2 separate regions of the Homo sapiens genome follow, and region 2 is linked to region 1. The links come from fine-mapping of genetic effects on gene expression. A gene starts in region 1. The other region holds a variant in brackets. All regions are shown on one strand. Distances are between the middles of the regions.

Region 1 (5,384 bases):
TACAGGTAAAAAAGAGGATCAAGTATTCTCAATATCAGTGAATAGGTTACTTTTTGCTATTGTTTTAAAAAACATTCATAGATTATCTTTAAAGTATCTCATACCAATTAAGTTTTCTTAAAACATTCCTAACTTAAACTATCCACAAGGGGGACATATTATCAGATACCGCATATTTTCCAAACTGAAAGAAGCCTGTGTCAGCTACACTGACTCAACACAACAAAGCATAGATGACAAGACATGAAGCGGCCAATTTCAATTTGTGAGTGGTAAAAGGAGATTTTAGCTCAGTTTCTCAAAATGTGGCCCAGAAATTAAAATTGTAGCAAACATTTGTGCTGCTTCTAAATATGTTCAGATTGCTGGGCACCTCCTCTGACCCAAATCAATTCCTGTGAAAACTATTGAGTAAGGTCCTAGAAGAGAATGGACGGTCTCTAGGTCAACAATGTCCATTTCACAGGTGGCACTGGTTTTCTAACATGAAACAAGTAGGCTACACGCTAGTAAAATCTTCCAATTTTGTGAAATACGTATAATTGTACTCTCAAAGTCAAGCTCTATCATGATCAAAATTGTTGCATAAGGAACTGTGTTACATCCAGCTTTTATTAAAAGAGAATTTATTATCCATTTTTCTCCCTTCAATTATTTAAAGTGGACATCAAACCTTAAAAAATGCACTACTCATCACTGCAATCTAAGCTAATGCCAGTGTATGTCATATGTATTCAATAAAATACGAAGCATGGTGGTGCTTGTTTTTTGGTGAGGGGACCTAAAGCTTTTATGAGACACGTTGCTATCACTTAAAATTCTTCAGCGCATAACTTGCTGGTGAGCATCAAAAGGTGGGGGTTAGGGGGCACTTCATAAATATCCATTTGAGTTTATTTTCTAATTCTGCAGAAAGTTTACATATATTCCTAATTTTATTATTATTAAAATCTTGGGGATTTTAAGATAACAAATTAAAACAGTATTTATTAAAAACAATTCATTTATTCTCCCAGGCTAATTGTACTTTATACTCCAGGAGAGTAGAGAGAAAACACACACTCTAAATGTATGTATTTTATGATTCTTTCGATGCAATTAATACACTGCGTTGCAGAAGGTTTTAGGCTTCTGCCTTTAAAAAAATTATATAGGATTATGTATAATCAATAATCATTAAACTAAAGGCAAAGAAAAGAAATCTGGTAGTTCCATCAATTTTATTTCGCTCTTGCATGGATTGCCTTTGTTAACATTTTTGGCAGAAAAAAGAATCAAAGCAATTGTAGGACTCTGCACCCCACAATGCGAGCTTCAATTGAAACAATGGTCTTATCGTCTAAGACAGATCAACGTTAAAGTTGGGCAAAAAAACTTAGGAGATCTTGCAAATCTTGTTATGTGAAACCCGTCCTCCCAAAAGACCTATTGGACCACACCTTTGTCCTCCGCGCCCTTTTTTTGCAGGGTCATTAACTCGCATTATTTTTTTGTTCTCCACAGTTCTCACTTGCTTCTCTTCAGTCTTTGCTAGGTTTTCCGCGATCTCCAGTGCAGCCCCTTCCACTTGCCGCGATTCTGCCTCTCTCAGACACTGACACGTAACCTCCTCCCCATACCAAGCCCTCACCCCAAACCAAGCTGTTAAGAACAGCTACAACTGCTTCTGGGAGACGTGGGGGGCGGGGGCAAGGCGGGGGCAAGGCGGGGGCAAGGCGGGAGCACCTCGACCCTCCCGCGAACTCTCGCCGCCGGTCAGTGCCCCCTGAACTGGATGGGACCAAGGGAGTCCCTCCGCAAGGGCCTCCACTTCTGACTACGGTCCGCACGCCCCACCCCTGCTCAGCACCCTGGCAACCCGCGGGACGCTTTGCTGGTGCCAGGCTTCAATCTCTTGTTCTCATTTTCTCGTGTCCTCGCGCTCTTCCTTCTACTGTATTTTTGTCTTAAATTCTTTAATGGCGAGAGAGAGAAAAAAAAACAAAACCAGCTCAGAGCTATAGTCTTCTTCCACAAATACGTGTGTGCTTTTCAGAACCTTTCTCCGTCCCTTTCTCCTGCTAACACATGTGGGGTCTGCAGTGCAAAGGACTCTCCTTTCGTCCAGTGACCAAATGGCAGTCTCTCAGTTTGCCAATTTCATTCATCACGCCCGCACCGACTGAAGCCTACTCCTCACCAGTTCAGCTGTCTTCCAGTTAATTGTATTAACTGCTAAGCACCTCCTCCACCTTTTCGGGTTCTATTACCGCCCTCATTAAAAAAAAAAAAAAAAAAAAAAAAAAAAAGAAGGAAAGAAAAGAAAAGAAAAAAGAAAATCCAACACGAACACTCAAGATAGCGTGAATTCAAAAAAGAAAGTGTGCGTGTGCAACACAGTCTGAGTGTGTGCATCCGTATGCGTCGCCTGCCTCAGCCTGCCCGGGTCCTGAACATGTAGCTGAGAGGTGCAGGACAGTCAGAGGGCCAAAACTTCCCCTGCCAGGCTGAGGCTGGGCCCTCCCGAGCTCACCTGTCCGCGTTCAGGTAACTGGCTAAGTGCCCGCCCGGCCGCGTTCCAGGACACCTGGCCGGGACAGAGCGAATGCCAGTGAATCCCAGGGCGCCCTCTCCCGCGCGTTGGTTCTCTAGCCCTCCTTCCCTGGGAGGGGTGGGATTGGGAGTGTTCTGTTTTCATTACTGCACCCCTTCCCCTAAAGACAACGGGACTGCCCTCCTCCACAGCGCCTTACCTCAAACAGGGGACCGATCTTGTTCTTCTCCAGGTAAGCCTGGATCCGGGTTTGCGGATGAGACGCCATGGGGAACAGATGGGACCGCGAAGAGAGTGCAGGGAGAACGCGCGGCTGTGCGCCTCCGCTGGGGACAACCCTCCTTTTACCCGGACTGGGGCCGGGACAGGAGCTCCGGAGCCTCGGCTGCCCTGCGTGGCTGGCTCGGCCCCGGCCGCGGGCGTGGGTGGCAGCCCGGGGAGCCACGCGCGCGTGGGGCGCTGAGAGCCGGAAGCCTGGGCGCAGCGCCGCCAACTCAGACAACTCCGAGGCGAGGGGAGAACTCATTCATCGCGTTCTCCGCCTCGCGCCCACCCTCGCCGCTCTCCGCAGCGCCCGGCGCAGTGGGGAAATTCGAGGCAGAGGTTCCTTTCTCCTCTGGGCGGCAGCAGCAGGAATCAGGGGGCGGGAGGCGAGCTGTGTCGAGGGGCGCACGCGGGCGGACAGGGGCCGCGGGGCTCGAACTCGCCACCGGTGTGTGTGCGTGCGTGCGTGTGTGTGTGTGTCCGTGCGCGCGCGACTGTGTGTACCTCCTTTCCCCGGTGACGGAACAAACAGCCCGGGCTGCTCCCCGAGGCTGCTCGCCCTACCAGCCGCTCCCTAGCGACAGCGCCGCTTAAAAAGCCAATGGTGAAGGTGCTTCTTTCAAAGTGCACATAAATCTGGTGCTTGTTGGCTACTCCTTGGCAGCTACAAATGCAGTTCGAAAGGGGATCGTCCCCACCGCCCCTTCTGAGCCTCTCCTCAGCACCTTCTGCCCTGCCTACTCTAGCGCAGGGGTTGAGAAGGGCAGAGTTTTGAGAAGGTGCGTGGGTTTAAGGGTTTGCCGCGAAAAAGAAGTTGCCTTCCTTTTCAAAATCTGGTTTGGCCTGGAGCAAGTCGACGGGTGAACGCAGCCTGAGAACCCAGCTGAAAACTCTCAAAGTGCAGGAGCTCAAAGGCTGGAACCAGCCTTTCAGCATTTGACAGGGAGAAGAGAAATGAGCGAGCCAGCCCTCCCCTCCAAAGTTGGCCTTCCTAATCCACGCCTTGAGTCATGTCTGTATACCTATAACTGCATCTCAGACACCACACTATCCCACTTCATAATGTTTCCTCTAGATACTGCGTGAGCTGCTCAAATTTAGCCAATACCTTTCTTATTATGCAGGGATTTCCGAGTCGAAGGTTTGCAGATAGCCCAGGCTTCCTCACAGAGCTCTCTTTCTTGTGAAATACAATACTAAGGTCCCAATGACAATTTCCCTGGCTCCTAACCATGATGTGCTGCCAAAATTAGATTTATTTCTAATAAATATAAATTTTCAGAATGATGGAAACAGTTTTCCTAAAAGCTGACTGCAGCAGTATATATTTTTTTCTTTCTTTCTTCACTGTGTTCTGGATTTCTGTTACTCATAGTTTCTTTATTGGTGTTCATGTTTTCCTTCTGTATTTTAAATATGTGGAAACATGTAATAGATAAGTGTGGAATATCCCAGGAACTATTATTAATTTCATGCATTAAGACATAAGAAATCTGCTAGAATAGCTAGGAGCTTAACCATCCCTGATAACCTGAAATGGACTTGATCCAGAGTGGAAAGATGTCCACATTAATACTTTTACAATCGGACTCATATGATCTGCCTAGGGAGGGTTAAGTTAAATAGCAGTGAGGTGTCCAGGGTTGCCTCGTGCTTTCCATTTTGGTTCGAAGGTATATTTACTTATGTATTTTTTAATGTGTCCAGGAGAAATTAAATACACAGAGTGAATACCAACATTTCTATTTGCTAAAAGGTATAGCGTAGAGCCATAAGGAAGGCCATCTATGACCCAGCTAAAAAGCCTACTATTTTTGATACCACATAAGGTACCAAGATGGTACGCTTCCTGAAATCAAGAGTCTTTCTCTTTTAAGAGGCATCAGGAGGATGCTTCTTTAAATGAAATAAAGACACTTATTAAGTCTTCACCATGCTCAGACTATTGCACTTAGGGCTTTGAATAGAAGAGACAAAGCTTCAGCTGGCAAAATGTGTATGTTTTAAAGAGAGAATGAAGCCAAGTACAAAGGCTCACGTCTGTAATCCCAATTATGTGGAAGGATCACTTGAGGCCAGCAGTTCAAGACTGGGCAACATAAAAAGACCCCATTTCTAAAACAAATTGTTTTTTTTAATTAGCTGGGCATAGTGGTGCACACTTATAGTTCCAGCTACTGGGAAAACTGAGACAGCAGGACCCTTGAGCTGCAGTTTGAGGCTGCAGTGAACTATGAGTGTGCCACTGCATCTAGGCTGGGCCATACAACAAGACTCAGTCAAAAGAAAGAAAGGAAGAAAGAGAGCAAGAGACAAAGAAAGAAGAGCAACATGAGGATATGCATACCCATTTATGTATGTTAAAACTCTGAGCATCCCAAAATTGCACATTTAAAATTCAGGGAGTATTTTCAAAGCTTTTCAAGGCCAACATTAAATATCACCTCCTTCATAAAGCACTTCTTGGTTCTTTCTATTTATCCCTAAACATGGCTTCATTACTACAATAAACATTTATTGCATAGCTTCTCAGTGACAGACATTATGTTAAGACTGGGAATTCAAAGGTGAAAGGCTTTGTCTTTGT
Region 2 (5,384 bases), 52 kb before region 1:
TATACAACAGCCTTTCATATATTTGAAATATATGTGCTATTCCCCTTAAGTCTTCCTTCTTAAGGTTAATATTGCTAAATACTTCAAAGCTTTTTTATTATGCTAGTCATTGTAGAAATGACCATTGCATTTGGAATATTCTAAATTAAATGCTGAACTTCAGATTTATCCCTATAAAGCTTCATATTATTCATGCCAAGTTCAGGCTCTGTTTTGTTTTGTTTTAATGTATTTCAAAATAAATAGGCCGGGTATGGGTGGCTCACACCTGTAATCCCAGAATTTTAGGAGGCCGAGGTGTGAGGAATGCTTAAGCCCAGGCATTCAAGATCAGCCTGGGCAACACAACAAGACCTCATCTCTATAGAAAGTCAAAACCTTAACCAAGTGTGGTGGACTAGTGGGCCATGCCTGTGGTCCCAGCTACTCTGGAGGTAAAGTAGGAGGGTCACTTGAGCCCAGGAGGTTGAGACCACAAAGAGCTATTACCACGCCACTACACTCCAGTCTGGGCAACAGTGAGAAATCCTGTCTCAAAAATAAGTAAATAAGTAAAATAAAGCTGATTTTTCATCATCTAGGTTTTTGGTAAAAATACTGAACAGGCCATGTTCTGGCACTAGCAAACAACTAGGGACAGTCCTCCAGGCTCATACCAATCATCAATCCATCCTCATGGGCAGGGGGATTCAATAAGATCCAAATGGCTGCACTATCACTAATTCCACATTTCTCCATCTTATACAAATCTGTGTTGTGTATATGAAAGGCTTTTCCAATTGTCTGGAAAAAAAATCTCAGATAAGCTATGTTTCCTACATGGATCTTATCTGTGAGCCTGGTTATCTTATCAGAAGCAAAGATTAAGCTGGTGTAGAATGATTTGTTCTCATTAAACTCACACTGGATTCAATGGAGCATATATCTCACTCACTGTTTTTTATTATTCAACATTTAATCACAAATTGTATAATTTTATTATAGGTCAATTAATCTTATCTTCTGTTGATTCCAGAATATACCTAGTTTTCTATGTTGAAAACTAAAAATGCTATTCCTGTTTCCAGTGTTTAGGCACATCTGTCAGCTTGGCAAGTATAGTGTGGGGATTGAGAGCATGAATACTGGTATCAAAGTATGTGGGTTTGCTACTTTGTTCCTCCATTTGTTTGGTGTGTGACCTTGGACAAGTTTCTTAACCTCTCTGTGCCTCCATGTCCTTATCACTAAAATGAGGCTGACAAAATTACCACATAAGGTTGAGGTAAGGATCAAATAATACCCAGTGCTTAGACCGTGACTGTCACATAGTAATTGTGGTGAGGTATTGGCTTATTAATTAAAGAGGACACTCCATGGTTCTGTGACCTCAATTCAAGTTGTTTACATTCACAAGGATATAACCACACTGAGCCAAGAGACTTTAAACTCATTAAAAGCATATTGCATATTTTTTTCGTTCCTTCGTTTTCAGCTTCTTCTTAATCAAGAACACCCTATTTTCTGGTGTGTAAAGTTAATCCTCTTTGATAGAAAATCTATCAGCAAAATAAAGGTTGAATCACTCTACACTCTCATGTCATCTGTTAAAATTTCACCATCTGCTCCCACCATGAGCTTGGTTCCATCATGTTATTATTAGAACCTACATTTCCAATCTTTCAAAATATATGCAGAGTGCAAGAGAGAACAAAACCTTTGGCTGAGTGGAGATAACAGTTAAGCCTGCACGTACCAACTGGATCACTTTTCTTGTCAAAGCATTTTATGTATTTAAACAACCAGTTTTAGCCTGATTAATCTGAGAGCAATCAGCAACAGCAGAGGGCAAACCATGCCCTTATGGAATAAACTCACCCTGGCTTTTACTATGCATCTCCTCACTTCTTAAAAACACAATGTTTGTTGTTGTACAATATTTAATCATACAGCCTAGAGTTTTACTATTAACCAATTAATCTTGTCTTCTTTTATTTAACAAGTAAAGCAATATCTTGGCAACAAAAGCGCAGACCCAGAAGCAGAGGCCAGCGCCATATATATCAAACAGACTGCCCTGCATTCCAAACATATTGTTGGGCCAGACAGCAAATCAAGAAGTGATGCAAACAGCAAGATATTAGTACTTTCAACACTAAACTGGCAAAAGCCATTGATACATGTTCTTTTGACCTACTGTTTTTGCTGTTGCTGTCATTTTACTCTCGAAGGAACCTATTGAAACTTCAAAGGAGAGGGTTGAGAACTCTATATTGACATTGACTTTAGATGTAAACAAAATTTAAAAATAATAGTCTTAGAAAATAGAATTGGAAAGAGCCAAATTTTCACCTCTAAAGCATTTCATTTTAGTTCATTTTGTTAAAAGGGTAAAACTTTCCTTCCTATCATGTCTTCTGAGAAAGGGTAGTGTGGTTAAGTATCTCCTAAATAGGACACACATCTGAATGGCAGACAGTTTGAAATTCACCAGCATCTATACCAAAATCCTGTATGTTTCTTTTGGCAGAACAGAAATCCTCTTCCTCCCACCCTATTAGGGAGATTACATTGTCTCATTTAGACTGCTTAATGATACAAACATGGGTTCTTTAGCTCAAGGAGTATTTTTTCAGCACCTGGCCAGTGCCAGGCTATTCTCCTGGACACATTGGCACAAGACAGTCATGGAGATGCCAGTGACTGCAGAGAGGAAATGAGCAATTCTCAGCACAAGTCAAAATAAATAATCAGGATGGGCTGCAGT[C/G]GAGGATGTAGTTTTTTTCTAATATTTTTCCAGAAGGGTGCACTATTGCACACTGTACAGCTCGAAGCACAAATTAGGATGTGATAACTTAGAAGCTTATTCATCATTCTTACACTGTAGATGCAGATGTATATACTGGACCTGAAACCTTAGAGAAACATTCTAGACCCGAGTATACTTTCTCCCAGCAGGGACCTTGAAGGGAATATGTATTTCAATCACATGAAAACTATGAACTTTAAATATTAATGCTGGAAGAAAAATTTCATGATGGGGAAATTGTCTGAACAAGCAAGACAGACCTATGGAACAGCTCATACATTACCAGTCACCATCACAGGGATCTGAAGTAGGAAATGGGGAAATGGGGCTAGAGGACACAGTTTTATGGTTAACATCATGGCCCAAATTTAGGCAAATGTTTCCCCTCTTAATGTGCTCTACATCGTACAGTTGAAGTAAATTCAGAATTTTCAATAAAATTTTACTAGAAACTAGGATGTAAATAAAGAATATAAACATGGCCATGATAATGACCCCAGATAATTTCACTCTCAAGTGTGTGCTGGACCTAGGATGACGGTCACATCTTCCTGACTTTCAGATTTCCTAATTCTTGGTCTGACATTATCTTTAACCTATGCTACAATATATAACCTCCTAGATATGCAGACTCAATGTCTAGGCCAAAAGAAAGACAGCACTCTTCTGATCATGAGAGTGGAGCTTTCATTTTCTAGCTCCTGTCTGAGGAACCCCCTTTCTCCCAGGAGGATGAAACTGGCATGGATGCCAGTGCACGGATGCAAAGTAGACCTATCAGAAGATATGATATAAATATAAATATAAATTTCAGAATTGCCAAATAGAATTCTATTCCAACCAAATAGAAAGTGTTGGAATCCATAGAATCTTTCTAAAGGAAAGTATAAAATAAAAAAAGAGGAGATCTAGGACTGAGTCCTGAGAATGTTCAACTTTTAAAGAGCAGGTGGAGGTGGAGGAGTTCCTAAGGGAGACTGAGAAGAAATGGCCTGAAGAGGCTGGAAGAAAACTAAGGGAGCATGGTGTCACAGGGGCCAAGGGATGGCAGCATCTTACTGTGTGGAATAGATGGGAGGCCAGGAATGATGGGAAATAGAAATGCTTCTGAACCTAAGGCCCATTGGTCCAGCAAAAGTATTCTGCAATGAGAGCAGTACTCTAGGTCTGCTGTGTTCAACACAGTAGGTACACGTTACTTTTGAACTCTTGAAATCTGGCTAGTGAGAATGAAGACTGAATTTCTAATTTAATTTACTTTAGTTCATTGTATAATTATTTCTGTATCACAGATGAGGAAACAGAGGCAAAAATACAGAGAAAAAAGCAACCTATAACACTGTCAAGATTGTAAACTGTAAAAATCTCTCTGGAAAGCATTTTGGCAATATATGTGAAATGTCTTAAATTGTGCACATCATTTTATATGCAATTTAATCAACAAGAATTACTAGGAAGTAATCAGATCTACGTATTTATCCACCACTACAATGGTTATAACTGCAAAGATGCAAAATATAAATATTCAATACAATAGGAAATAGATAAAATATGTTATCATGTACTTATGGAATACATCATGAATGGAAAACCACTAAACTTATCAATGAAATTTCTTATGTCCGCTATGTTTCTAATTGAAAATTTCAGGTTGCAATACTATTTGTATATGATTGAATTTTGTTAAGTACCAAATATATATGTGCATTAAAAGACTGGAAAATATGTATCAAAATGTTAACAAAAGTTATGTCTATGAAGGAGCACTGGAGAACTTTTACATTTTTCTTGATTATTTTTACTTTCTGTTTTTAATCTATAGGTATTTAAGTCATTTTAAAAGAAAAAATAAATGGAATGCACACACATCATCCTCAATTTGTAAGCCATTTAATATACCTATTTTTTTTTTTTTTTTTTTTTTTTGAGACGGAGTCTCGCTCTGTCGCCCAGGCCGGACTGCGGACTGCAGTGGCGCAATCTCGGCTCACTGCAAGCTCCGCTTCCCGGGTTCACGCCATTCTCCTGCCTCAGCCTCCCGAGTAGCTGGGACTACAGGCGCCCGCCACCGCGCCCGGCTAATTTTTTGTATTTTTAGTAGAGACGGGGTTTCACCTTGTTAGCCAGGATGGTCTCGATCTCCTGACCTCATGATCCACCCGCCTCGGCCTCCCAAAGTGCTGGGATTACAGGCGTGAGCCACCGCGCCCGGCCTTAATATACCTATTTTAAATGATGTGTGTTGTAAACATTAGATACAAGTGGTGGGAATCTTGTAATGATAACAGAGTACTCCAAAAGCAACATTTGCAAACCCGAAAATACAATACTAGCCATATATGAGATGTAAGCATCTAGTGGATTAACTAGAACATGCTTGAGTTAACCTCTATAGGTTCTTTGGAATAAACTTAGAGTAGAGCACTTGAATGCAGATCAATGAAGTTTACTGGTTTCCCTTTTTAAAGAAAAATAGTCTAGTCTTCCTGCTTCAGATAATACAATAGTCAAGCTTCTTGTACTTCTTAAAATATTCATGAAAAAATACTGAACACTGAAGTATTCCTTCATTAACCTTATTTTGTACAAAATAATT

Which allele goes with the higher level. Alleles are on the strand shown, and positions count from the first base shown. SD is a standard deviation of normalised expression in the study named.
For the expression in cerebellar hemisphere of the gene that starts at base 3,117 in region 1, G is the high allele of the variant in region 2 and C is the other (moderate effect, 0.72 SD a copy in GTEx).

The links.
Region 2: its variant is fine-mapped to the expression of C8orf34 in cerebellar hemisphere (GTEx, PIP above 0.99). The same link has a PIP of 0.9 or more in cerebellum.

Annotation. Positions count from the first base shown.
Region 1 is chr8:68,328,688-68,334,071 of GRCh38, reverse strand. It overlaps C8orf34 (chromosome 8 open reading frame 34), which reads right to left and starts at 3,117. Exons shown (of 14, transcript NM_052958.4): 1 at 2,733-3,117. The coding sequence starts at 3,059. C8orf34-AS1 (C8orf34 antisense RNA 1) reads left to right here and starts at 2,581. Exons shown (of 3, transcript NR_038877.1): 1 at 2,581-2,765.
Region 2 is chr8:68,381,069-68,386,452 of GRCh38, reverse strand. All of the region lies in intron 1 of C8orf34 (chromosome 8 open reading frame 34), which reads right to left. Among named protein-coding and RNA genes, the nearest start is that of C8orf34-AS1, 52 kb to the right of the region's middle. The variant C/G (reference allele first, on the strand shown) is at 2,747.